Homo sapiens: one gene and its partners. The protein of the gene in region 3 purifies or fractionates together with the protein of the main gene of each other region. This does not show direct contact. Each region holds a gene or a part of one and is shown on either strand. Other genes may lie near its edges.

Region 1 (6,484 bases), on a different chromosome or scaffold from region 3:
CAATGACACGATCTTGGCTCACTGCAACCTCCGCCTCCCGGGTTCAAGCGATTCTCCTATCACAGCTTCCCAAGTAGCTGGGATTACAGGCATGCACCACCATGCCTGGCTAATTTTGTATTTTAGTAGAGACAGGGTTTCGCCATGTTGGCCAGGCTGGTTTCGAACCCCTGACCTCAGGTGATCCACCTCCTGTCCTCAGGTGATCTGGCCTCCCAAAGTGCTGAGATTACAGGCTGAGCCACTGTGCCCGGCCAAAAATAAAGGTTTTTAAGTGCTTAAGCAAATCAGGGATTATATGGTATTTGCTATATTACCTCCATCTTTCATGTATTTATGTAATATTTCATGATAAAAATATTGTAGCCAGGCAGAGCAACTTGTGTGTGTAATCCCACCTACTTGGAAGGCTGACACAGGAGGATCGCTTGAGCCCAGGAGTTGGAGGCTGAAGTAAGCTATGATTGCACCACTGCACTCCAGCCTGGGCAATAGATACTCTAAAATAGATAATAAATAAATAAATAAAAATGTTAAAAACATTTAAAGTAGCTATTTTTTGTATGTTTGTATTTGAGATGGAGTCTCACTCTGTTGCCCAGGCTGGAGCGCAGTGGCGTGATCTCAGCTCACTGCAACCTCCACCTCCTGGGTTCAAGGGATTCTCATGCCTCAGCCTCCCAAATAGTTGGGAACACAGGTGTGCGTCACCACACCCGGCTAATTTTTGTATTTTTAGTAGAGATGAGGTTTTGCCATGTTGGCCAGGCTGGTCTTGAACTCCTGGGCTCAAGAGATCCATCTGCCTCACCCTCCCAAAGTGCTGGGATTACAGGCGTGAGCCACTGCAATCTGCCCAAATTAGCTATTTTTTAATGGATAGATTTCTGTACTTTTGAGGCCTAACATGAAAACAGTACAGATTTTGCTCTGTGTTCCTTTGGGCATTCAATATCAAAGTTTCTAACTTGCTTGTAATAAATTAGGAGTTCATTATGTAATTGTATTGAAATAAATAGCCAAATGTGAAATATAAAGGAATTGACAAATCAGAGACTAATTCCACACTTTAAATATCACCAAATAATGTCAAGAAAACAACTGTGAACTTTTAATTGGAACTATAGTTTTCTCACAGATTTTTATTAAAAGGCATCTAGCCAAGTAAAATCACTTAGAATCTCAGAATCAATCCCCCTTTGTTTCTTTTGAAGGAACTGCCAAGGCAAATAGCATTTGCCTATGGAGATGAAATACAGTACTCTACTGTGTTTTTGCTTTGTGTTTTAAGGCTGTCACAAAGTTTCTTTTCTCCAGTTGAACAAAAGAGAAGATTGCATTTTAGTCACTGAACAAACATTTATTGAGCACAGTGCCAAGTATTGTGCCAGATTACCAAATTCCTAATCTTAGGTTACCAAATGACCTACTTCGGGAAAACATTGAACCAGGAGCCTGTATAACTAACTTACAGTTCTGGCAACTGCTAGAACTTCCCAGTGAAGTCATTATACCAGTCATGAGATCTGCCTTCTAGCTCAATCTGCGATCAACATGTATGATTCAGGAGGAGCTGCTGGTTGGTGAAACAAATTCAGAATCACTGTTAGGCTAACAAAAACGAAAATCCATACTTTATATAATAAAATAAACGTTTTATAAACTACCTCCCAAGTCGTTCAAAATCACTTCCAAAATTATCTTAAACTGTTTATTTCTATCTCCTGCTTATTCACATCAGTAGACAGTAGATCCCGGTTTTAGTTAATTTAACTGAAAGCTGTCTAGGTGTTAACTCATATACCAGCTCATTTGTCGACATAGCTTCTCAACGTTATGCTCAGGTATGTTGAAATTTAGTAATTAGCGACCTTTCTAAGAGATGTTTACTTAATTGTATTAATACACACATTTCTAGACTACTTCTTACATTATGAAGGTTGGTATCACGTGAAAAACAGCCAATTTCATGTTTACTTCCACCCCACCCCCGTGACTGTGCCAGGCACCAGGATCCAAACACATCTGCCTTACTCACCTTCCTTGGGTTATCTCCTTGCAGGACGAGTGGCCACACCCAGGGTGTAGGGAAACCCGTTGCTTGGTCCTAGCTGGTTAACCTCACCCTTGCACAACAAGCACGTCAATGGGAGCAGGATCAGCTACTTTCTTGTAGGTGAATTCCCGTTTTTGAAGTGGGGTTTCGGCTCCCTAATCTGCACTTTTTTTTTTCCTACCAGTTTGGAGAAACAGCTGGGAAGAACTGGATTTGCAGGTATTGCTGGAGCCAGAGCGAAGCCCGGCCACTGTCACCATGGGCTCCAGCCTCGCCTCTCTGGGCCTGGTGGTGAGCGGCTTCAGCAACAGGTTTCCGGTCCCCGCAGAGGGTCCCACTCTGAACTCCCGATTTACAGACTGTTCTCGGGCCGTGATGAGGATTAAGACAATGCAACTAAGAGCACTCTGACTACAGAAGCATGATTTAAAGCTCCACAACCCTGCAATAACCACGAAGAAAAATAAAAAGCGGCTAGTCCGCCAGGCACGGTGGTTCATGCCTGTAATCCTAGCACTTTGGGAGCCCGAGGCAGGCGGATCTCCTGAGCCCAAGAGTTCAGTAACAGCCTGGGTAACATAGCAAGACTCTGATCTAACAACAAAAAAAAATTAGACCAGGAACAGTGGCTCACATCTGTAATCCCAGCACTTTGGGAGGCCGAGGCAGGCAGATCACCTGAGGTCAGGAGTTCGAGACCAGCCTGACCAACGTGGTGAAACCCCATCTGTACTAAAAAATACAAAAATTAGCCAGGCATGGTGACACGCACCTGTAATCCCAGCTACTCAGGAAGCTGAGGCAGGAGAATCGCTTGAACCAGGGAGGTGGAGGTTGCAGTGAGCCACATCACGCCACTGGCCTTCAGCCTGGGTGACAGAGTGAGACTCCGTCTCAAAAAATAAATACAAAATTAAAAAGCCAGGCGTGGTCCACGGTCCCAGCCACTTGGGAGGCTGAGGTGGCAGGATAACTTGAGCCCTGGAGGTCAAGGCTGCAGTGAACGGTGATCACACCACTGCACACCAGCCTGGGGACACAGCCAGACTTTGTCACAAAAAAGCAAAAACAACTGGCCAGTGTATGAGGGGCTCGTGTTTTTTGTTTGTCTGTTTGTTGAGACAGAGTCTCACTCTGTCGCCAGACTGGAATGCAGTGGCACATTCTCGGCCCACTGCAATCTCTGCCTCCTAGGTTCAAGCAATTATCTGCCTCAGCCTCCCAAGTAGCTGGGATTACAGGCGCCCGCCACCACGCCCGGCTAATTTTTTTGTATTTTTAGTAGAGACGGGGTTTCACCACCTTGGCCAGGCTGGTCTTGAACCCCTGACCTCATGATCCACCCGCCTCGGCCTCCCAAAGTGCTGGGATTACAGGCGTGAGCCTCCGCGCCCGGCCAGGGGCGCGCGTTTTTAAAACATGGGAGAGGGAATTGTGCTTCACAATCACCATCAGGTGTCTCGATATCGGGTGCCACGCCGTCCCGCTTCTGAGGCGCGGCGGCCCACTTTGGCAGGCCGAGGCGGGTGGATTACCTGAGGTCAGGAGTTCGAGACCAGCCTGACAAACATGGTGAAACCCCCGTCTCTACTAAAAATACAAAAAATTAGCCGGACGTGGTGGCGCATGCCTGTAATCCCAGCTACTTGGGAGGCTGAGGCAGGAGAATCGCTTGAACCCGGGAGGCGGAGGTTGCGATGAGCCGAGATCGCGCCATTGCACTCCAGCCTGGGAAACAAGAGCGAAACTCCGTCTCAAGAAAAAAAAGGAAAGACCCCCCCTCCTTCTCCCGCCGGAAATACCCTCTTTCAGGACGGCGCGCCTGTGCGGCGCACGCGCGCTCAGTTACTTAGCAACCTCGGCGCTAAGCCACCCCAGGTGGAGCCCAGCAACAACAGAGCCACCGCGTCCCCCACCAATCAGCGCCGACCTCGCCTTCGCAGGCCTAACCAATCAGTGCCGGCGCTGCAAGGAAGTTTCCAGAGCTTTCGAGGAAGGTTTCTTCAACTCAAATTCATCCGCCTGATAATTTTCTTATATTTTCCTAAAGAAGGAAGAGAAGCGCATAGAGGAGAAGGGAAATAATTTTTTAGGAGCCTTTCTTACGGCTATGAGGAATTTGGGGCTCAGTTGAAAAGCCTAAACTGCCTCTCGGGAGGTTGGGCGCGGCGAACTACTTTCAGCGGCGCACGGAGACGGCGTCTACGTGAGGGGTGATAAGTGACGCAACACTCGTTGCATAAATTTGCGCTCCGCCAGCCCGGAGCATTTAGGGGCGGTTGGCTTTGTTGGGTGAGCTTGTTTGTGTCCCTGTGGGTGGACGTGGTTGGTGATTGGCAGGATCCTGGTATCCGCTAACAGGTACTGGCCCGCAGCCGTAACGACCTTGGGGGGGTGTGAGAGGGGGGAATGGGTGAGGTCAAGGTGGAGGCTTCTTGGGGTTGGGTGGGCCGCTGAGGGGAGGGCGTGGGGGAGGGGAGGGCGAGGTGACGCGGCGCTGGGCCTTTCCGGGACAGTGGGCCTTGTTGACCTGAGGGGGGCGAGGGCGGTTGGCGCGCGCGCGCGTTGACGGAAACTAACGGACGCCTAACCGATCGGCGATTCTGTCGAGTTTACTTCGCGGGGAAGGCGGAAAAGAGGTAGTTTGTGTGGTTTCTGGAAGCCTTTACTTTGGAATCCCAGTGTGAGAAAGGTGCCCCTTCTTGTGTTTCAATGGGATTTTTATTTCGCGAGTCTTGTGGGTTTGGTTTTGTTTTCAGTTTGCCTAACACCGTGCTTAGGTTTGAGGCAGATTGGAGTTCGGTCGGGGGAGTTTGAATATCCGGAACAGTTAGTGGGGAAAGCTGTGGACGCTTGGTAAGAGAGCGCTCTGGATTTTCCGCTGTTGACGTTGAAACCTTGAATGACGAATTTCGTATTAAGTGACTTAGCCTTGTAAAATTGAGGGGAGGCTTGCGGAATATTAACGTATTTAAGGCATTTTGAAGGAATAGTTGCTAATTTTGAAGAATATTAGGTGTAAAAGCAAGAAATACAATGATCCTGAGGTGACACGCTTATGTTTTACTTTTAAACTAGGTCAAAATGCAGATCTTCGTGAAAACCCTTACCGGCAAGACCATCACCCTTGAGGTGGAGCCCAGTGACACCATCGAAAATGTGAAGGCCAAGATCCAGGATAAGGAAGGCATTCCCCCCGACCAGCAGAGGCTCATCTTTGCAGGCAAGCAGCTGGAAGATGGCCGTACTCTTTCTGACTACAACATCCAGAAGGAGTCGACCCTGCACCTGGTCCTGCGTCTGAGAGGTGGTATGCAGATCTTCGTGAAGACCCTGACCGGCAAGACCATCACCCTGGAAGTGGAGCCCAGTGACACCATCGAAAATGTGAAGGCCAAGATCCAGGATAAAGAAGGCATCCCTCCCGACCAGCAGAGGCTCATCTTTGCAGGCAAGCAGCTGGAAGATGGCCGCACTCTTTCTGACTACAACATCCAGAAGGAGTCGACCCTGCACCTGGTCCTGCGTCTGAGAGGTGGTATGCAGATCTTCGTGAAGACCCTGACCGGCAAGACCATCACTCTGGAGGTGGAGCCCAGTGACACCATCGAAAATGTGAAGGCCAAGATCCAAGATAAAGAAGGCATCCCCCCCGACCAGCAGAGGCTCATCTTTGCAGGCAAGCAGCTGGAAGATGGCCGCACTCTTTCTGACTACAACATCCAGAAAGAGTCGACCCTGCACCTGGTCCTGCGCCTGAGGGGTGGCTGTTAATTCTTCAGTCATGGCATTCGCAGTGCCCAGTGATGGCATTACTCTGCACTATAGCCATTTGCCCCAACTTAAGTTTAGAAATTACAAGTTTCAGTAATAGCTGAACCTGTTCAAAATGTTAATAAAGGTTTCGTTGCATGGTAGCATACTTGGTGTTTTGTCATGAAATTCTCTAGTGATGTGTGGGTACGCTTAAAACTGGTGAAAATGTTTAGGGATTTAATTTTGAGATTGGTAATGTGCTCAAAGTTAAGTCACTTGACTTTGGTATACACTTGGGTGGGCTGAGGGGCAAGAGCCTTCTTTGCTGTTTAAGTCATTACAAGTTAGGATCCTGGGTAAATGGCAAACTTTCTGAAGCTCGAATTTAAAGTCTGTTGGGAGGCCGAGGCAGGCGGATCACGAGGTCAAGATATGGAGACCACCCTGGCCAACATGGTGAAACCTTGTCTCTACTAAAAGAAAAAAATTAGCTGGGCGTCGTGTCGCCTGCCTGTAGTCCCAGCTATTCGGGAGGCTGAGGCAGGAGAATCACTTGAACCTGGGAGGCAGAGGTTGCAGTGAGCCGAGATCGTGCCACTGCACCCCAGCCTGGCGACAGAGCAAGACAACATCTCAAAAAGTTGGATATGCAGGCTTTTTAAAAGATGGTCT
Region 2 (7,035 bases), on a different chromosome or scaffold from region 3:
TTATAACAGGTTTCAGGCTTTTTAGAAACACTGATTATGCATCTATGTTAAAAAGTTAGTAGTGCTTTTCTGATACCTTAATATATTTTGCCCTGAAATTATATTAATTTTCTAGTGCCCTCTGGATTTGACAGTTGAATGGTTTGGCTCAAGGTGTCACAAAGTCTGATCCCTACCTCTAATTTAGTAAAACTTTTTTTGTGTCTCCTAGGCCAGAAAATCATACTTTAAGTTCTATAAATACTTTTATGATTTTTTTTTTTTTTAAGACAGGATCTCACTGTGTCATCCAGGCTGGAGTGCAGTGATGTGATCACGGCTCACTGCAGTTTCAACCTCCTGGGCTCAAGTGGATCCTCCCACCTCAGCCTCCTGAGCACCTGGGACAACAGGCTTGCACCACCCTGCCTGGCTAATTTTTGTGGGTTTTTTGGTAGAGACAGTGTCTCACCATGTTGCCAAGGCTGGTCTCCAACTCCTGGGCTCAAGCAGTCCTCCCACTTTGGCCTCCCAAAGTGCTGGGATTACAGGCGTGAACCACCACACCCAGTGAGGATAATTATTTTTATTGCCTGTAAGTTTAATATTCTAAGTAGAACAATACTTTTTTTCACTTTTTTCCTCCTTTTAAAAATTGAGATATAATTTAGTGAAACTGTATATCAGTTCTCATGTGTAGAATGCAGTGAGTTTGACAATTGTATACACCTGCATAGTTCACGTTTCTATCAAGATAGAGAACATTTCCATCATGTCAGAAACTCCATTTGTGTGCTTTATCAGTCATTCCTTTCCCAACCCTGCCAGTCTCTGGTTAACCACTCTTCTGATTCCTGTCCCATAGGTGGTTTTTTCCTGTTCCAGACATTCATATAAACATAATCATACAGTAGTATTCATGTTTAAAACATAAATATTTTCTATTCATTTATATATCAGTCTAAGTGTTTTCATAGCTAATTTGAAAATTTGTAAGAATATCTCATAACAGTAACATACTGCAGTGCTAGTCTTATTATTTAGAGAAATGTAAGCCACTGACTCTACTTTAAGGAAACAACCTATAAGAGTGCAGATTGCCTTCAGCTAACTGTGGTACTACTCTTATTAGGTGTTTGTATGCTATTTTGATAAATATCTTTCCAAAATTTTCAAGAAGCCAGCGAAACAGATTGAAGAAATGTCTTCTACATATATGGTTTGGCTTTAATAGCTCATCAGAAACAGGATAGTGTTATATTTGAATCTTTTAAAATAAAGTTCAGATAGTTCAACAATGACTAAAAAAAAAAAATGGCCAAAAAATGTGAAAAGACTCAGCCTCATTAATAATGATGAAAAGTACAGGCTGGGCGTGGTGGCTCATGCCTGTAATCCTAGCACTTTGGGAGGCTGAGGCGGGCGGATCATGAGGTCAGGAATTCGAGACCAGCCTGACCAACATGATGGAACCCCATCTCTACTAAAAATACAAAAATTAACTGGACGTGGTGGTGTGCGCCTGTAATCCCAGCTACTTGGGAGGCTGCGGCAGGAGAATCGCTTGAACCTGGGAGATGGAGGTTATAGTGAGCTGAGATCAGGCCTCTGCACTCCAGCCTGGGTGACAGAGCAAGACTCTGTCTCAAAAAAAAAAAAAAAAATACTAACTAAAACATTATGTCTCATCTATCAGATCAGAATATTGATCTGATGTTGACAAGGAGAGGATGTTGGAACTCATATACTAATATTGAGAATTTAAATTGTTATGTCACTTCATGGGATGCAGATACCAAATTTTTATGTGACCATTTCTTTAGATAGGGCTATCAATAGACTCTTCTACAAGGATAGGAATGTTCTACATCCTGCACCATGCAGTATGGTAGCTGCTGACTACATCAGGCTATTGAGCACTTGAAATGTGGCTATTACGGCTGAGGAACTGAATTTTATTGTAATTAATTTAAATAGTCATACGGGATGGCTCACACCTATAATCCCAGCACTCTGGGAGGCTGAGGCAGGCAGATCACCTAAGGTCAGGAGTTCGACCCGAGACCAGCCTGGCCAACATAGTGAAACCCCATCTCTACCAAAAATTAAAAAATTAGCCAGGCCTGGTGGCGGGCTCCTGTAATCGCAACTACTCAGGAGGATGAGGCAGGAGAATTGCTTGAACCCAGGAGGTCGAGGTTGCAGTGAGCCGAGATTGGGCCATTGCACTCCAGCCTGGGAGACAAGAGCAAAACTCCGTCTCAGAAAATAAATAAATAGTCACATGGGCCAGGCATAGTGGCTCATTCCTATAATCCCAGCACTTGGGAGGCTGAGGCTGGAGGATCACTTGAGCCCAGGAGTTTGAGACCAGCCTGGGCAACATAGTGAGACCCTGTCTTTCCAAAAAAAAAAAAATTTTTTTTTAATTAAAATTTTTTAAAAAGCCTTTAAAAATAAAAATAATCACGTGTGGCACAAGCCTGTAGCCCCACCACTCAGGAGGCTGAGGTGGGAGGATCCCTGGAGCCTGGGAAGTCAAGGCTGCAGTGAGCCATGATCACGCCACTGCACCCCAGCCTGTGCAACAGAGTGAGACCTTGTCTCAAAATGAATAAATAAATAATTTTAAAATCGTCACATGTGGCTAGTAAGTACCATATTGGACATGACAGCATTAACGCTGATTCTCTTGTAGCCATTTATTTCAAGGAAATTATTAGAAATATACACAAATGTATATACATAGATGTGTTGCAGCATCATTCATAATTTTGGAAAGCTAGACAATGTTAAACAGGGTATTTGTAGTATAGTAAATTTATTTGGTCTTTGTCCCTGGTTCCTGTTACAGAGCCACTAGAACCCTTGGAATTTTCTGATAGTGTAGTGTATTTTTTTGTTATTCTTAATGTACCCCTTTTGATAACACCTGAGTTCATCCTAATGAGATAACTTTTAGGATCTGGCCTATCTATAGCCTAAGGAAGGATGGGGCCAGTCACCAAAAAGACTAAGTGATTAGAGTTTTAGAGGGTTGGAACTTTTGGCACCACCTACCAAAATCCAGGAAAGGAGGAGGGCAAGTGCTGGAGATTAAGCTCCATTAAAGCTTTTTTCTTCTTGTGTTTTGAGCCAAGTCTCGCTCTGTTGCCCAGGCTGGAGTGCAGAGGTGCGATCATAGTTCACTGGAGGCTTCAACCTCCTGGGCTCAAGCAATCCTCCTACATCAATGTCCCAAGTGGCTGGGACCACAGGCGCCTTCCACCACACCTTGCTAAATTTTTTTGTGTTTGAAATGAAGTCTTACTATGTTGCCCAGGCTGGTCTCGAACTCCTGGACTCAAGCAATATTCCCATCTCAGCTTCCCACAGTGCTAGGATTACAGGTGTGAGCTGCTGCGCCTGGCCTATAAAAACTCTTGAACTAGAAATCTGATGAGCTTCCAGGTTGATGAGCACATGGAAGTGTTAAGAGGGTAGCACCCAGAGAGGGCGTGGCAGCTCTGCACCCCTTCTCCCTCTACCTTTCCCTGTGTGTCTCTTCACCTGGCTGTTCTATATCATTCATAATGTCCTTTGTAATAAACTACTAAGTGTAAGTAAAGTGTTTCCCAGAGTTCTGTGAGCCATTCTAGCAAATTATTGAACCCACAGAGAGGGTGGTAAGAACCCTGTGCTAACCATTCAGTCGGAATCATAGGTCACAACCTGGGACTTGTGATTAGTGTCTGAAGTGGGGCCAGGCTTATGAGACTAAACTCTTAACCTGTGGGATCAGACACTGTCTACCTGGAGATAGTGACAGAACTGAATTGAATTATAGGACACTCCGTTGGTGTCCATTGGAGAATTGTTTAGTGTGGAAAACACTCTCATCTGGTGTCAGACCTATTGGGAGGGTATAGTAGGAGAGAAAAATGTGTTCTTCCCAGAGTATTACTTAAATTTTGTTGTTATATTTATGTAGTATACAATGCAGTTGTTAAAGGTAAATCTTGGCCGGGTGCAGTGGCTCATGCCTATAATCCCAGCACTTTGGGAGGCCAAGGTGGGCAGACCACTCAAGACCAGGAATTCAAGACCAGCCTGGCCAACATGGTGAAACCCCATCTCTACTAAAAATACAAAAATTAGCCAGGTATGGCGGTGCACACCTATAGTCCCAGCTACTTAGAAGGCTGAGGCACGAGAATTGCTTGAACCTAGGAGGCGGAGGTTGCAGAGAGCCGAGATCACGCCACTGCACTCCAGCCTGGGTGACAGAATGAGACTCTGTCTCAATAAATAAATAAATAATTTAAAAAATTTTTTTAAAAAGATGAATCGTAGGTATTGACCTGGGAAGCTGCCTGTAATATAATGTCAAATTAATTAATCAGGTTATACAACAGTGATGATTTCTTTTAAGGCTATGTGAAAATATGTTTATACATACAAATTTGAAGGATATACACCAAAGTATAAGCAGTAAGTAACTTTGAGAGGTATGATTATTAGGGAATTTTAATTTATATGTAATGCAATTTTGTAATATTTGCTTTTTTTTTCAGTAAGCCTGTATTACATTATTCCATTTTAAGAATATAAATAAATAAAAATTGATTACTTTACAACCAAACTGTGTGCCCTACCACAAAAGCACATGAAGCTGACCCCTGATGATTTGGGAAAGAAGTGCTATTCCGTACAGGGTCTATGTAGTATTAAAGGTTTCTTGTTGGACACAACCAAATAATAGTAGCCAAAGTCTGTTAATCAAGCTAACTTCACTTGTCCTGTGGCTGGGAAGATAATTCACGCTCAAGTGTAGTGTCACTTCTCAGCAGGACTCATAAATCAAGAATAATTGAGGAGGAAAGCAGTTAAGATTTGGTAAAAACAGGAAAAGCTCTCAGAGAGTATAGTGTATTCGTGTGTTTATTTCAGCAGTAAATCTTAACTATTTGTGAAAGCTTAAATGTAGATATAACTACCCACAGGAATGGAATTTTAGCTAACATTTGAGATGTACTAGGTATGTGAAGCAAATAACTGGTTCTGAGAGGCTTGGCTAAGGTGAAGGACAAATGTAGCAGCAGAAGAGAATTGCAATAATAACATTATGATACAAAAATTCTATCTTAGTGTGTTGGAGCTGCTATAACAAAATACCTTAGACTGGATAACTTATAAATAATAGAAATTTATTGCTCATAATTCTGGAGGCTGAGAAGTCCAAGATCAAGGTGCCAGCAATTTTAGTGTCTGGTGAGGGCCTCTTCCTTACAGATGGCACCATTTGTGTCCCTACATGGCAGCAGGGGCAGGGCAGCTCCCTTCAACCTCTTTTATTAGGACACTAATCCATTCATGAGGTTGGAACCCTTATGACTTAATCACATCCCAAAAGGACGCACCTCTTAATACCAACACAATGGGGATTATTTCAACATGAATTTTGGAGGGACACATTCAGACCATAGCAAGTGTTTATAGTATTAGGACCTATGGCACATACTGCAGAATGCTAGTATTGATTCCATAAGAAAATCGCCTTTTATGGACTGCTTGTCACAGTGCAGTTTCTTAGGTCTCATGTGTAAATTTCCTAGGTAATTCATATGCACATGCTGAGGCTTGAGGACCACTGTCACAGGTTTTGCACAATCTTCCTTCATTAAATAGCTGTTGAATGAATAGCATCTTTTTCTCCCCCATGAGAGCCAATAATTGGCCTTATAAGTTACAGAAATTTTTTTCTCACATTTATTCAAGTAATATTTACATTTCTTCCACCCACTAGACATTGTTTGAGGCCCTGAGGGATACAGTGGTGAACAAGACAGGGTTTCTGTTCTCTCATTGGAGAATTAGGACAAAATGTTAACATGAAGGATGGGTTGGGTTGGAAGGATGGTGCTATGGTTTGAATGTTTTCCTCCAAAATTCATGTTGAACTTAATCCTCAATGTGTAGTATTAAGAGGTGGAGCCTTTAGAAGGTGATTAGAAGAATTAGTATCCTTATAAAGTATACCAATAAAAGACTTGAGGGAACCTGTTGGGCCCTTCTACTCCCCTTCCACAAAGTGAGGATGCAGAAAGAAGGCACCATATTGAAGCAAAGAACAAGCCCCTTACCAGACGCGAAATCTGCTGGTGCCTTGATCTTGGAATTTCCAGCCCCTAGAGCTGTGCAAAATAAATTTCTATTATTTATAAATTACTGAGTCTGTTATTTTGTTATAGCAACCTGACTAAGACAGGTGGAGAGGACTGCTTTAGATTGGCTGGTCAGGAAAGCCTCTCTGGAGAGGTGGCCTCTCAACAGAGACTTAGGGGAGGGTGGCACTGGGAGCAGCCAAATGTGTGACCGTCTGAGAGGGAAGCATTGCAGACAAAGAGAGCAGTTGAATAAAGCCCTAAAGTAACAACAAGTTTGGTGTTTTGGCATGTTCAAGGAATGGAAGAGCCGATGGCTGAAGCATGATGATTAAGGAAGAGAGTGGGCTGATAGTAGGCAAGGGTCTGATTATGGAATAGTTCCTAAGCCGTAGTAAAGAACTTGAAGTTTTTTCCAAGTGCAGAAGGAAACAGATGGATAATTTTAAGCCAGGGAGAGACGGAAGTTATTTACATTTTAATAAGAGAATTCAGTTCTTATACAGAGAATGGAGGGGTATGAGGATGGAGGAGGGACATGAATAGAACATTTGAGCCCAATTAGGCTCTAATGCAGTAGCCCAGTGAAGATGATAGTAGCTTGAACTGTGGATCTGAAGAGAAGTGTATGATTTTGGGATATATTTCAGAGGTAAAGCAGACCACACATTGCAGTGGATTCGATTGGCGGGATGGAGTGAGACGTTAGAATGATTCCTTGTCTTCAGCTACTGGATGGATGGTGTGGCCTTTATTAATATGAAGAAGATGAAGGAACTTTGAACTTATCCAGGTTCTGGTGATTTAATTCTTTCCTGCAAACAAACATTTTTTATTTGTAAGCCAAAATGCAGATTTAGTCATTTCAATGGGTTTGCTCCCTTTCACTAGTGGTTTGCAAATGGTATTCATT
Region 3 (7,792 bases):
CTCCATCTGTTTAGTAACAGGGCAGGTGGGCTGTCAGCCAAGTCCTCTCTCTCGAGCAGAAGGTGTGTCCCTCCCTAAGGTTCCTTAGTAGCAGGGTGTAGTGTGAGATGGAAGATGTTGCTGAGGTTACAAATCTGGCCCAGCCTCAGCCTTCCCAACATGCCAGAGCTACAAGTAATTCCTCTGAAAAGAGCTTTTTTTCTTCCTCTTAGATTTTGATCTAACAGTTATCAAATTGAATAGTACCAAGATACAGTGGGGAATGCAAAGGTGAGGGAACTTCAGGAGCTCATAAGCCCAATGAGAAAAGACCAGGTTTTTTTTTTTTTTTTGAAAGATTTTAATTTTAGGCCAGGCATGGTGGCTTACACCTACAAACCCCAGCACTTTGTGAGGCTGAGGTGGGAGGATCGCTTGAGGCCAAGAGTTTGAGACCAGCCTGGGCAACACAGGGAGACTCCATCTCTACAAAAATAAAAAATATTAGCCAGGCACAGTGGTGCATGCTTGTGGTCCCAGCTACCCGGGAGGGAGGCTGAGGTGGGAAGATCACCTGAGCCTGGGAGGTCAAGGCTGCAGTGAGTTGTGATCATGCTAGTGCATTCCAGCCAGGGCAACAGACCCTTTTAGAAACAGGGTCTTACTCGGGTGCCCTGGCTAGAGTGCAGTGGTGTGATCACAGCTTACTGCAGCCTGGAACTCCCGGTCTCAGTAGGTTCTCCCACCTCAGCCTCCCAAAGTGTTGGAATTACAGGTTTAAGCCACCATGCCCGGCCTTAGGTTTTTGTTTTCGATGGGGAAAAAAAAAAAAAAACAGTAGTAGAACAGGACAATAAAGCCTCCATGTAGCCATAACCCAACTCCAGTAACTATCAACTCAGATCAGTCTTGTTGCATCTATACCTCCCGCACGCTGTTCCTCTCCCACTGTCTGAACTATTCGGAAACAAACCCCAGTCATGTCATTTATTAAGTATTTCGATATGCATCTCAAGTATTTTAAAAACAAGCAAAATATGCCGGGCACGATGGCACACACCTGTGATCCTAGCACTTTGGGAGGGTGAGGCGGGCGGATTGCCAGAGCTCAGGAGTTTGAGACCAACCTGGGCAACATAGTGAAACCCCGTCTCTACTAAAATACAAAAAATTAGCCAGGCGTAGCGGTAGGCGCCTGTAGTCTCAGCAACTCGGGAGACTGAGGCAGGAGAATCGCTTGAACCCGGGAGGCAGAGGTTGCAGTGAGCCGAGATCGCACCAGTGCACTCCAGTCGGGGCGACAGAGCAAGACTCCATCTCAAAAAAAAAAAAAAAGCAAAATACCTTTAAAAAATTTCTTAAAATCATCATATCCAATCACATTGTTCAGATTTCCCTAGTTGTCTCATAACTTGTGTAGTTTCAATTGAGATCCAAATCAGTTTCATACATTGCTATTATTTGTCTCTGAATTTTTTTTTTTTTTTTTTTTGAGACAGAGTTTCACTTGCCGCCCAGACTGGAGTGCAGTGATGCGATCCCAGCTCACTACAGCCCCCGTCTCCCGGGTTCAAGTGATTCTCATGCCTCAGCCTCCTTGGTAGCTGGGACTACAGGCGCCCGCCATCATGCCTGGCTAATTTTTTGTTTTTTTGTGTGTGTGTTTGTGTGACAGAGTCTCGCTCTGTTGCCCAGGCTGAAGTGCAGTGGCGGGATCTCGGCTAACTGCAAGCTCCACCTCCTGGGTTCACACAATTCTCCTGCCTCAGCCTCCCAAGTAGCTGAGACTACAGGTGCCCGCCACCACGCCCGGCTAATTTTTTTTGTATTTTTAGTACAGACGGGGTTTCACCATGTCAGCCAGGATGGTCTCAAGCTCCTGACCTCATGATCCACCCGCCTCAGCCTCCCAAAGTGCTAGGATTACAGGGGTGAGCCACCTTGCCTGGCCTGTCTATGAAATTTTTTCTACTCTGCAGTTTATCTGTTAAAGAAACTAGGTTATTTGTCCTGTTGCATTTCCCACAGCATCATTTTTGCTATTTGCATCATGGAAATGTTATTAAGCTCCTCTTCTCCATGTATTTCCTGTAAGTTGGTTGTTAGATCTAGAAGCTTGACCAGATTCAAGCTTATTATTTTTGTTTTGTAAGACTACGTCATAGGTGATAGTATATACTTGGTGCGTCTTACCTGGAGGCACTTAATGTCTGGTAGTCCTACTTTGTGATGTTACAGATGCCACTATATCATTTAGAGTTGAGAAACAAGACTGCACTCTGGGCAGAGTGGGGCACAAAATTACAGAGAACCTGGAGAGCTGGTTGTTGTAGGAATGGCAGGTGGCGCAAGGCAGGATGTGCTCAGGAAAAAGCAGAGTCCTGGAGTGAAGGGAATAGGGAGACAAGTCCGCAGGGTGAGATGTAGTCAGCTCATGAGGACTGGTTTGGCTTTTATTTTGTAGGCAGTGGGGTGCTGTTGAAGGGTTTTGAACAGAGAGATGACAGGTCCAGAAACATACTTTTGGAAGATTAACACAGTCAGTTTTGGGTAGGATGATTCAGGGAGGGCAGAGACTGGCTCAGTTTGAAGCAAGTGGAAGTGACACTGGGCAAGTCTGGTTGGGTACCAGTGGACCAGTACCTTCAAGAGGGCAGAACCTTGAGTTGTTTTTCAAGGTCCAGGTTTCAGGATCCTAGGCTCAGAGAGTTGACTGTGAGGCGGCTGGCAGGATCTGGCCCTAGGGACTGACCAAGCTATGGCCAGTGAAACAAACTGTGGACAGGTAACCTGGGTGCTATTGAAACTCAGTTGGTCTACTCCCTGCCCAGGCTTTCTCTACCCTCCAGAAGTCCCCCTTGAGTTCACAAGTGATTTCTGGAATGTTCTTTGGGTCCATATTAAAAATATATCTCTTGGCTATAGCATTTCTATAGAAAGCTATTCCCTTCCATTACATTTTCAACTTGTGTTTCTCAGAGTCGCCTGAACTTCCCTGGGAGGAACTTGGGGGACTTGGCTATTCCCCAGCTCCCTGCTGGTGAAGACCATGAGGCTGGAGGTAGGAGGAAGTGGAATGTGAGAGAGAATGAGGAGGGAGAAGAGATAGACCTGGGTGCCTTGGTGTGGAACGGAGGGAGAGGGAAGACACCCAGGAGGTTTTGGTTCCCAGGATGCCAGTGCTTTGTTGCCTGGGAAAATACAGTGTTACATCTTTCTGTAGGAAGGATGGGGAAAGTCCCTGTCCCCTGTTTGCTAGCCATGAGGCAGCTTGTCAGGAGAGTCTCTGGATTCCTGTCACTTTAATTCAATACACAATCTTGTGTTTACTATAATGATTTCCTCAGAAACTACAAAACTGAGTACTGAAAAGAGTTCCCAGGAATTAACGGAAATGGGACAGAGCCCTCCTCCCCAGCACTTTGTGCACACTCAGGACATCGTGAGCCACCTGCCACACCCAGAAGAGAAAAATCTGACCGGCATCCGGTTTGAATTAGAGCAGGAAGGAAGAGAATTGTGCTCGCCTTTGTCTTTGCCTTTGCCTTTGCTTACCCAACTGCTGGGACCAGAGGCAGCTGGGTTGAACTTTGTCTTTGGTCAGGGGTGGGGGTGGAGGGGACAGAATCCATTTCCCTGGGCTCCATCCTCTTTCTGGTCATTTGGACATGTTTCCTGTGATCTAAATCTGATGTAAGGAAATGACAATTGTGAAAGACCCAGCGTGAGAGAATCTGATGGGAGGGTGGGTCATCAGGGACCAGCTGGCCTGGCTGATGATGTATTAATATCTTAATCACACAGAGGACCCCAATCTCCTTCCAAACCTAATGAGCGGAAGTGGTTCTCAAAGCTACTCAGCCAGCTAGCAGCTGCCATAACCCAGTCAGCTGTCCTAACTCTTAGTCCTGTAATCCCTCCTCCTCATAGAAGATTGTAAACTGGCAGCCCACAGGGCAAATCTAGTGGCCAGGTGTGTTTCATTTGGTCTACATGGCATTTTAAGAACTTTTTGATGCTATCAACATTTTTTAAAAGTGGCAAATTTCACCTAAATATCTGGATTTTTGGCATGTTTTGAAAGGTTGGAAGACCTGGGAATGGTAGGCCCATGTTCCTGCAGGGGAGTGCTCGTCTTCCAATGCGGCGCACAAGCTCCAGCGTCCTGCGCTAAACCTAATTGGCCTGGCTGAGGATCTGCTCCTGGAATGCTGGTTGGTCGCCTCCAACTGTCTTTGACTTAGAGATTATTTACTGTCAGCTTACTCATAGTGGCGCAGAGAAGTGGTTTCTCTGAGCTAGAAGCTTCTAAGAAAAGTCCATCCTCAAAGCTGTTTGTGGGATAGACCTGGCTCCTCCATTGTAATATTCCTGATTCCAAACACTACTGGAAAGAGCTCTGAACTGGCAGTTAGCAGGCCTGGGCTCCCATCCCGGCTCTCCTCCTAATGAGCGAAGCCATTTCAATGTAGTCGAACTTAGCCTCTGATCCTTAACTTTCCCTATCTGTAAATGAGGGCGACTAGATGGGTGCGGACTGTCATCCGTGTTGAGACTTCCGGCCCCCGCAGAATCAACCTTACCGGCGGGAGCACCTCGAGGGGACGCCGCTCGCACTAGGGGGCGCCAGGGCCGCTGCAGAGCCCGAGCCAGAGCCAGGGGGCGGGGCCGCGTCTCGGGAGCGAGGCCTGAGAGCGGCGGGGCGGGGCGTCGGCGGGCAGTCCCCTGTGCCAGGTGTGGTTTGGTCCTCCCAGGGCGCCGTAGGCGGTGCATCCCGTTCGCGCCTGGGGCTGTGGTCTTCCCGCGCCTGAGGCGGCGGCGGCAGGAGCTGAGGGGAGTTGTAGGGAACTGAGGGGAGCTGCTGTGTCCCCCGCCTCCTCCTCCCCATTTCCGCGCTCCCGGGACCATGTCCGCGCTGGCGGGTAAGGAAGGGCTGCTCCGCCCTGTCCCGCTGTTATCTCCGAAGTCCGGTTCCATGGCGCCTGAGGGAAACCGGCTGTCTCTCGGGGGTTTCGGGCTGGTTGGGTCCTCGTGGGTCCGAGCTCCTCAGAAAAGCTGGGAGGCGGGGTGGGCACAGCGCTCCCCAGGCATTTGGAGGGTGGGACTCCGGGAATGGGGAGGCAGGGCATCCTGGAGACAGAGGGCTCCGAGGGGCAGGCGGGTTGGGAGGCTTCCCGCGAGTTGAGGTCCCGGGGAGGAAGAGATTCTGGGTCTGCCAGGAATCCAGCTTTTTGGAGGGACCTGGCGGCCGCAGACCCCCAAATTAACCCTTTTTAAGGAAGTTGAAAAGCATGGGGTTCTCTTATAGTGGAAGCTCTGTGGAATTTGAGGAGTACAGGATCCTCTAGGGTTCAGGACAATTAGGAGAGTTACCCCGGGTTCTGGGTTTTCTGAGGGAAATGGAGGATGTGACTTCCCTGCCAAGACCCAAGGCTTCTCGCGGGCATCTTGGTGTCTGGGAGTCCCCCGGGGCTGGGAGCTCTTTGCAGAAAATAAGGGAGTATGGAGCCCCTTGAGGTTTAGGACAGGACTAAGGGTAAGGAGAGATCGGACCATTCTTTTTGGGGCCCAAAGATCTCTGCTACAGGTGGCGAAAGTAGGCCACCTGGGGTTCTGAGTCCTCCTGTGGAAGCTCCCTTGGCCTCTCTAGACTAAAGACTAGAGGGATTCGGCCAAACACCTCCTGGAAGGAAGAGTTGTCTAAGGGTGAAGGGTAGCTTCAGAGTTGGGTTAGTTGCACCTGCAGTCACCTCCCCGCCACCTCACACACCACCCTGCAGCTTCCTGCCTTCCCCATCTTTTCCCCCAGCAGTAGGAACCTTCTGTCTCCTATGTTTCCCAGCCACCTGTGTGGGTGGCCCACCTCTGGGTCCACCAGGGTCAGCGTCCAGAAGCTTTGGAGAGGCGGCAAGAGGGTATTGAGGTGGAGGGGGGCTGGCTATCTGCCCCCTGCTTCCTGGCTTTCCGTCTGTGGACAGTCACTTCCTTCATCTTGAATGCAAGGACTGGGCTACCAGTGGGTCACTTCCTCAGCAAGGGAGCATGGGATTTTCTCTTCACTGGTGATAACAGACTTCTGGAGAGAGCTAGGGGTGGAAATGCCTAAAACAAATTTTTTTAGGCTGGGCGTGGTGGCTCATGCCTGTAATCCCAGCACTTTGGGAGGGCAGGGCAGGAGGATCGCTTGAGTCCAGGAGTTTGAGACCAGCTTGGGCAATATAGCGAGACTTCATCTCTTAAAAACAAAACCTTGTCTCTTAAAAAAGATTTTTTTTAAGCTTACAGAGTCCTTCAACTCGAATGATTTCCAGTAACTTTTTTTTTTTTTTCTTAGATGGAGTCTTGCTCTGTCGCCCAGGCTGGGGTGCAGTGGCACAATCTTGGCTCATTGCAACCTCTGCCTCCCGGGTTCAAGCGATTCTCCTACCTCAGCCTCCCGAGTAGCTGGGACAACAGGGGCCCGCCACCACGCCCGGCTAATTTTTTTGGTATATTTAGTAGAGATGGGGTTTCACCATATTGGCCAGGCTGGTCTTGAACTCCTGACCTTGTGATCCGCCCGCTTCGGCCTCCCAAAGTGCTGGGATTACAGGCGTGAGCCACCGCACCCGGCCGATTTCCAGTAACTTTTTCTAACAGCTGTGTAATATAGGTTGCCTGTCTTGAACCCTGTTTCTTAGAAAATTGTGAAAGGTTTCACAGTACAATAGTCTAGAGGCATAAAGCCTCTAGATGCATTAGTTTATGCATTCTTTCTTTCATTCAAAGAATATTTGTTGGATTCTTCTGTGTCATATACTTAGCCAAATGCTGAGTACAGTGGTGACATAGTTCTTGGCTTTGTGGTGCTTAATAATCCTAGAGATGGACAATAAATAATTGTAACAATTGCAATAAATGCTATAATAGTTAAGGTAAACAATTGAGATAAGTGCTGTAAGAGTGCACCAGGGGTGAGGGTTTTCTCTACTTTTTTTTCTGTTTTGGTAGAGACAGGGTCTCACTATGTTGCCCACGGTGGTTTCAAGCCATCCTCCTGTCTCAACCTCCCAAAGTGCTGGGATTACAGGCATGAACCACCATGCCCATCCTCTACTTTTTTTTTTTTTGAAGGGAATACTTTTCTTAAAAATGCAAGTTTATGCTGACCCCTGGAGATAAGTAAAAGTTAGCCTGGCAAAAAAAGCTCACAGAGCATTCCAGGCAGAGGAAACAGCATAAAAAGGCCCTAGGGTAGGAAGGCATGTAGTGCCTTTGAGCCTTGGAGCTGGGAGGTCAATATGGTTTTTTGATTTTTTTGTAGGGGGTGGGGAGGAAGAGTCTTGCTCTGTTGCCCATGCTGGAGTACAGTGGCGCGATCCAGACTCACTGTACCCTCCACCTCCCAGGTTCAAGTGAATCTTCTGCCTCAGCTTCCTGAGTAGCTGGGACTACAGGCAAGTGCTACCACGCCCAGCTAATTTTTTGTATTTTTATTAGAGACGGGGTCTTACCATGTTGCCCAGGCTGGTCTCAAACTCCTGAGCTCAGGCAGTCCACCCGCCTTGGACTCCCAAAATGCTAGGATTATAGGCGTGAGCCACCATGCCCAGCCAAGTATGGCTTTTTTATAGATGAGGAGACAGGCCCAGAAATGACAAGGTTCCATAGCTAAATGAGCAGTGGTGGTCAGAGTTCATATTTTCCAACTTCAAGTTTAGTGCTTCCTCCTCTCTGTAGCACAAAAAGCAGAATGAAGTTGACTATGGAGTCTGAGAAGGAAGTGGGACTTAAACTTTCACTTGTTATTCCATTCAAACCATGTTCTGAGACA
Region 4 (7,000 bases), on a different chromosome or scaffold from region 3:
ATTTCTTTACTTTTAGAAAGGATAGAATCCTCTGCTCCTATATATTACAAATAGTAATAAAGCTAAGTAAAACACAACTCAAAAAAATACCCTCTTACCTTTGCCAAGACTAAAGACAAATGGTTCATTTCTATCATGACTGGAATCAAACTTCTTTCCATTTGACAATTTTCCTTTGTAATGGACATAAACTTTGTCTCCAATCATCGGCGTTTCCTCACCATTCCCCACTCTTTTGACAATCTAGAAAAGACAAACATTAAGAAAAAGGAGGTCAAACTTTTTACTTGTAATCAGAGAATAAAAAGGTCACACAGTCCATCCCAAGACATCCAGGCAGATATGCAAATATACTATTATCCATTCTTTCTAATGCCTCCCTTCATTCCTCACAATAACTCATTGTTAGAAAACTGTCCTTTACCAACTTGTCTTTTATGTTATATCTACTTTTATTGCTAATCGCACTATTTATTCCTTCAAAGAATTAACCAATAAATCCTGTTCATTGGTTTAATGCCCTATATTTTGACAGTAAACTCTTTTTTTTTTTTTTTTTTTTTTTTGAGACGGAGTCTTGCCCTGTCGCCCAGGCTGGAGTGCAATGGCACGATCTCGGCTCACTGCAACCTCTGCCTCCCAGGTTGAAGCAATTCTCCTGCCTCAGCCTCCCGAGTAGCTGGGATTACAGGCGTGCGCCTCCGTGCTCAGCTAATTTTTGTATTTTTAGTAGAGATGGGGTTTCACCATGTTGGCCAGGCTGGTCTCGAACTCCTGACCTCGTGATCCACCCGCCTCAGCCTCCCAAAGTGCTGGGATTACAAGCATGAGCCACCGCGCCCGACACTAAACTCTCTAACACAGGCTTGTGAGCTAGTCCATATACACACGGACTTAGACCAGAAAGAATGGTGGACTTTTAAAATATTCAAAAAGAAGCTTAAGCAAAGCTTCAAAGGTGTAATTTTATTTCCCTCCTTTGCTAAAAACATTAGCTCCTGACTAGATTCTGCTTGTTTATTTTCAGAAAGCCCAATTTCCTGGTAAAACAGGTTACATTTCCTATTATTTGAAACATAGTCTATCTGTAAAAAACATGAGTATCATTGCACTGCTTGATATGATACTGAATAACTTGTTTTCTAGTAAAGTATTTAACTACTGTAAAATCCAGTGTATTTATTTTGTTCTTGGCAGAGCAAGCTGCTAATGTATTTGGTCAGTTCTGGGAAAAGAAAATCAAACCCAGGTGTGTGATGGTGTAATTTGTTAATTTGTAATCTATGCCAAATTAATCATTTTTGGTAGATAACAGAGGATGGTAGCTAACATCTGATGAACATCTTTTTGGGGAAGGAGTTTGCTTTGAGTTTTATTTAAATAATTCGATTATTTGCTCCTAAATTCTTTTTTTACAAGTATACCGTCCACCTAACATAAATATCACATAAACACTGTGAACTTAAATTCCACAGCTTTCTTAACTCAAAAGCCCAAACATCTTTATTTTATTTTTTGAGACAGGGTCTTGCTCTTTTACCCAGGCTAGAGTGCATGCGGTGGTACAATCATAGCTCACTGTAGCCTCTATCACTCAGCTCAAGTGATCATCCCACCTCAGCCTCCCGAGTAGCAGAGACTACAGGCACATGCCACCACGCCTGGCAAATTTTTTTATTTTTAGTAGAGATGAGATCTTGCTACATTGCCCAGGCTGGTTTGGAACTCCTGAGTTCCAATGATTCTCCCGCCTCAGCCTCCTAAAGTGCTGAGATTACTGGTATAAGCTATCGCACCCAGCCCCAAATATTCTTTAAAGGCAAAGAAACACTACTGCCCTTCTAGGACTTCAAAAGAAAAAAAAAGTCTCAAAACATTAATCTAAAAGATATTACACAATATTCTACAAGTGCTCATGTTCACGAACTGCATGTGGTATTTGGGAGGCTATGCTCAACTGTAAGCCTCACGTGGAAGGAATCTGCATTTCTAGGACTATAAACAGTAACTGGGCATGTGGGATGAATGGCTACCAGAGAGTCAGAGAGCCATCCACACCAGCAAGTGGTACTATGGTATCACTTCAGGCTTCCCTAGCAAGATGAATTTGTACCTAAATCTAGAGTTGCCTTAAGAACACAATCTAGGTTCTATTCATTTTTAAAATATAAATCCATCTTTTATCTTCCTCAGATAGTTACTGAATTTCCAAACCAGCACTGGTTCTTTTTTTAAAAATACGTAATAGTTAATAAGATAGATTACTATAGGACAGGCACTATGCTAAGTGCTTCACCTAATCCTAATAACTCTATGAGGTTGATGGCATTATTATTCTAATTTTACAAACAGGAACTTAATCACAGAGAGGTTAACTAAATTGCCCTAGCTTGCACAGTTACTAGACCTATTTAAATCTTAACCAAAAGCCTCATGGTGAAATCCGAGGCTCTAGACAATGATAAATGATATAATTTAAAGGGCTTCAAATCTCAAATGTTTCTTAATAAGCCTAAAAATCTTGCAATTAGATTTACTCCCTAGAACAGAACAGGGTCTGAGGCAAGTTGGGGATCATGTTCTCTGGGCATGGGCACTCTGAAAAGATGAAAGGGTAAGTCGTAAACAGAGGCAGGGAGATGCTGAGGACAGCCTGCAAAGTCTCCACTGTTTCTAGAAGCTTCCTGGAATTTAGGATGAGTAACTATAGCTACAAGGTTGAGAAGCCTTCTAAAAAAAGACAATAGGATGTAAATCTATAGCATAAAGCCCTTATTCTATAGCTGCAAGTCCCCAAAATTTGACTTAGCACATAATAGCAATTCACATATATTCAGAAGAGATCCAGGCACAGAAGGCTTTCACATAAGCAAAGTTATACAAAACAAAAATTCTTACTTGCTACTGCTGGCACAAGAGATATTAAAACTCAGCATCCTGGTAATATTCAGAATGCATCAGATAATCTTTTCAGGAAAAACAAAACTTAACTATACAAAACTTACATGTGTTAACAATGGTGTAGGAGAAATAACTATTTAATGTGACTAAAGCCACTTAACCTTTCTCAGATTCAGTTTATTCACTTATAAGATGGAAGAATCAAGAGATGCTCTGATTGTCTCACCACATTGTTGTAAGAAACAAAACAAAAGAAATGCACGTGAAAATGATTAACTATAGAGTGAAGAAACACACACAGTCATGCATCGCTTAAGGACAGGGATATGTTCTGAGAAATGTGTTCTTAGATGATTTCATCCTTATGTGAACATCGCAGAGTGTACTTACACAAACCTAGATGGCCTGGCCTACTTGTACACACCCACGTTAGGTGGTTTGGCCTACTGCTCCAAGGCTACAAACCTGTACATTGTGTTACTGCACTGAATACTGCAGGCAATTGTAAAACAGTGGTATTTGTGTATCTAAGCATATCTCAACATAGAAAAAGGTACAGTAATAAAAGGTATACAAGAAAAAAAATGGTACACCTATACAGAACACTTACCATGAATGGAACTTGCAGGACTGGAAGTTGTTCTGGATGAGTCAGCGAGTGAGCAGTGAGTGAACATGAAGGCCTAGGATATTACCATACACTACCGTAGACTTTATAAACACTGGACACCTAGACTACATTTATTTTAAAATTTTTCTTCTTTCTTTAATAATAAATCAATCTTAGCTTACTATAACATTTTTACTGTGTAAACTTTTTTTTTAGCTTTGACTCTTGTAATGACACTTAGAACACAAACACTGTACAGCTGTACAAAAATATTTTCTTTCTTTATATCCTTATTCTATAAGCATTTTTCTGTTTTTTAAATTTTTTATTCTTTTACTTTTTAAACTTTTTTTTGTTTAAAACTAAGACACAAACACATACATAAACCTAGGCCTACAGAGGGTCAGGATCATCAGTATCACTGTCTTCCACCAACACATCTTGTCCCACTGGAAGGTCTTCAGGACAGTAACATGCATGGAGCTGCTGTCTCCTATAATAACAATGCCTTCTTCTTGAATACCTCCTGAGGGACCTGCCCAAGGCTGTTTTTTGTTTGTTCATTTGTTTTTGAGACAGGATCTCACTCTCACCCAGGCTAGAATGCAGTGGTATGATCATAGTTCACTGCAGCTTGGAACTCCCAGGCTTACATGATCCTCCTGCCTCAGTCTCCTGAGTAGTAGAAACTACAGGTACATGCCACTATGCCTGGCTAATTTTTTTAATTTTTTTTCTACAGATAGGGGTCTTACTATGTTGCCCAGGCTGGTCTTGAACTCCTGGCCTCAAGTGATCCTCTTGCTTTGGCCTCCCAGGGTGCTGGGATTACAGGCATGAGCCACTGCACTCAGCCAAGGGTGTTTTACAGTTAACTTTTTAAAAAATAAGAAGCACACTCTAAAATAATGATAGAAAGTATAGTAAACACATAAACCAGTAATATAAACATTTATTATCAAGTATTATGTACTATACATAACTGTGACTGCAGTGCAGTAGGTTTGTTTACACCCACATCACCACAAACACATAATACACTGTACTACCCATGCTACAACAGCTATGGCACCACTAGGCCATAGGAACTTTTCGGCCCCATTATAATCTTATGGGACCACTGCTGAAGGTGCAGTCTGTCACTGACTGAAATGTCATTATATGGTGAATGACTGTATAGTGCTTTAATAAGTAGGAAAGCTAATTCAAAAGTAAGATATATTCTAAGAGGAAATCGCAAAAGATATCTTCACTGTACACAGGAACAATATTTATATATAAAAATAAACCCCTTTGGGCCGGGCACGGTGGCTCATGCCTGTAATCCCAACACTTTGCGAGGCCAAGGCAGGCGGATCACCTGAGGTCAGGAGTTCAAGACCAGCCTGGCCAACATGGTGAAACCCTGTCTCTACAAAAATTAGCGAGGCATGGTAGCAGGCGCCTGTAATCCCAGCTACTCGGGAGGCTGAGGCAGAATTGCTTGAATCCAGGAGGCGGAGGTTGCAGTGAGCTGAGATCATACCACTGCACTCTAGCCCAGGCAACAGAGGGAGACTCTGTCTCAAAATAAAATAAAATAAAATAAAATAAAATAAAATAAAATAAAATAAAACCCCTTTGAATTTTTCAAGTTAGCTTTTCTTTCCTTAAAAAGTCTTCAAAATTGTCATTAGCTAGCTTTAGTGTACTAAAAGGATACATTAAAATAGTAACCTATTTGTATACTCTGAGAATAGGGAAATATAGCCCTTTAGAGTGAGATATAACTTGGACCTGAACCCCAGGTAAATCTGCATTACTAAGATATATGATATTAGGCAAGTTAATTTACCTAGCCCAGTCTCAATTTCAACATCTATAATCTGGGATTAAAAATTAAAATCTCTAGCTGGGCACAGTGGCTCGTGCCTATAATCCCAGCTACTCAGAAGGCTGAGGTGGGAGGATTGCTTGAGGCCAGGATTTCAAGACTTGCCTGAGCAACATAATGAGATGCCCTCTCTCAAAAATTTAATTAATTAATTTAAAAAGAAAATCCCAGCTACTCAGGAAGCTGAGATGGGAAGATCACTTGAACCCAGGAGCTCAAGACCAGCCTGGGCAACATAACGAGACTCAACTCTTAAAAAAAACCTTGAAGTTATGAAGACAAAATGAGAATCTAGCTCTAGTGTTTGGCACTTAGTAACCATCAATAAACATTATCCACCCCAGCCCCCCTCAGAAAGAGATGCTATAATCTTTCCAGACAGCAGGTTTCCTTGTATGTCACTCAGCTTTGTGGCCTCACCTTTAATACTCCCCTGTCTTTTTTGGAGGTAATATCCTCTCCCTGCTCAGCAACAGTGGCTGTGGGGCTTTCTTCATTGTTCTTGGCACCTTCATCAGTAGTCATTGTCTTTTAAGTAGAGAACCTGGTAAGAAGAAAAATATTTTAGCTGGGAAAAATATCACTTCTTTATGAATCTTGAATGTCCCTGGGAACTGAGCTCTACCTAACCTAAGATTTACTTAGGGCCAATAAGCTTAGATACTGAAAATGAAAACAAAGGCATTTGCTATGAGCATGTATTGATGTCATCAGGCATGTAAATAAAACATCATCCAATTCTTTAATTTCCCATCTAGCTCTGGTCTCAAAACAGAGAACAGTACAAGTCAAGTTGGGTAGTGATTACATTCCTTAACATAACATGGTGAGAAGCAGTCCCTTCACAACTTTGAAAACATCCTTTTTCTACAGCCATATTCTTGACAGAGGATTAAGACCTTATCAGTTCTTAATAAAAGAAGTGACAATATATCAATCACAGTGAGACACAGAACAGGATTTAGAATCCAACAGACCCAAGTCTGGGTCCTAGCTGCAGCTCTTGACATTTCCAGTTTCCTTAATCTTGCTGAGCCTTCATTTTTCATCTGCAAAATGGACACAGTACACTATTCATAGTTACAGTGAGATAACATTTCTTAAAAGATTAGCATAGATTGGTAACTTAAACATATTTAACCATTTATCATCATTATTGGGCCTTCTGTAGGGTCATTTTTCATCTCCTGCCCAAAATACCTACAGAATGTTCTTCCATGTGGCATTCAAGGCCCTTCACAATCTGGCCCTAATCTATCTTTGAGTTCTAGCTGCCATTATTTTATTTTACTTTCTTTCATGCAGCTCATGCTCCAGCCAAACTAGGCCAATTCCACCTCTACAACAAACCCAGTGCTTTCCCATAGTCATTCTTCTGGTCACTCCCTTTCTTGTTTCCAAAACATCCACCTCTCTCAAATCCTACTTCTGTCATACCAACCTTGACCCTCTATTTGTAGGCCATTTTGCCCTTTTACGTACTTCCTTAGCTCTTCTCTCGATTTGTTGTCTGTAAGAGATTCATAAGACTATGCGCCTGTTAGGTTTAAAAGATCCTTCAGAGCAAGGTCCATGCTTTGTTCATATTTAGATTCCCTAGAATGCCTCTACCTTTG

What was found.
Region 1: the proteins of LIMK2 (region 3) and UBB purify together in Homo sapiens (affinity purification with mass spectrometry; 2 studies listed by BioGRID and IntAct, with this or other methods). This does not show direct contact.
Region 2: the proteins of LIMK2 (region 3) and TTC1 purify together in Homo sapiens (affinity purification with mass spectrometry; 4 studies listed by BioGRID and IntAct, with this or other methods). This does not show direct contact.
Region 4: the proteins of LIMK2 (region 3) and FKBP5 purify together in Homo sapiens (affinity purification with mass spectrometry; 2 studies listed by BioGRID and IntAct, with this or other methods). This does not show direct contact.

Annotation. Positions count from the first base shown.
Region 1 is NC_000017.11:16,376,768-16,383,251, forward strand, and holds UBB (polyubiquitin-B precursor), read left to right. Parts: upstream 1-4,323; 5' UTR 4,324-4,417; intron 4,418-4,522; exon of another isoform or gene 4,523-4,912; intron 4,913-5,134; 5' UTR 5,135-5,140; coding exon 5,141-5,830; 3' UTR 5,831-5,973; downstream 5,974-6,484.
Region 2 is NC_000005.10:160,012,117-160,019,151, forward strand, and holds part of TTC1 (tetratricopeptide repeat protein 1), read left to right. Parts: intron 1-2,542; exon of another isoform or gene 2,543-6,915; intron 6,916-7,035.
Region 3 is NC_000022.11:31,207,524-31,215,315, forward strand, and holds the start of LIMK2 (LIM domain kinase 2), read left to right. Parts: upstream 1-4,774; 5' UTR 4,775-4,885; coding exon 4,886-4,901; intron 4,902-7,792. UniProt on the Homo sapiens protein: Serine/threonine-protein kinase that plays an essential role in the regulation of actin filament dynamics. Acts downstream of several Rho family GTPase signal transduction pathways.
Region 4 is NC_000006.12:35,636,916-35,643,915, forward strand, and holds part of FKBP5 (peptidyl-prolyl cis-trans isomerase FKBP5), read right to left. Parts: intron 5,929-7,000; 5' UTR 5,910-5,928; coding exon 5,805-5,909; intron 244-5,804; coding exon 99-243; intron 1-98. UniProt on the Homo sapiens protein: Immunophilin protein with PPIase and co-chaperone activities. Component of unligated steroid receptors heterocomplexes through interaction with heat-shock protein 90 (HSP90).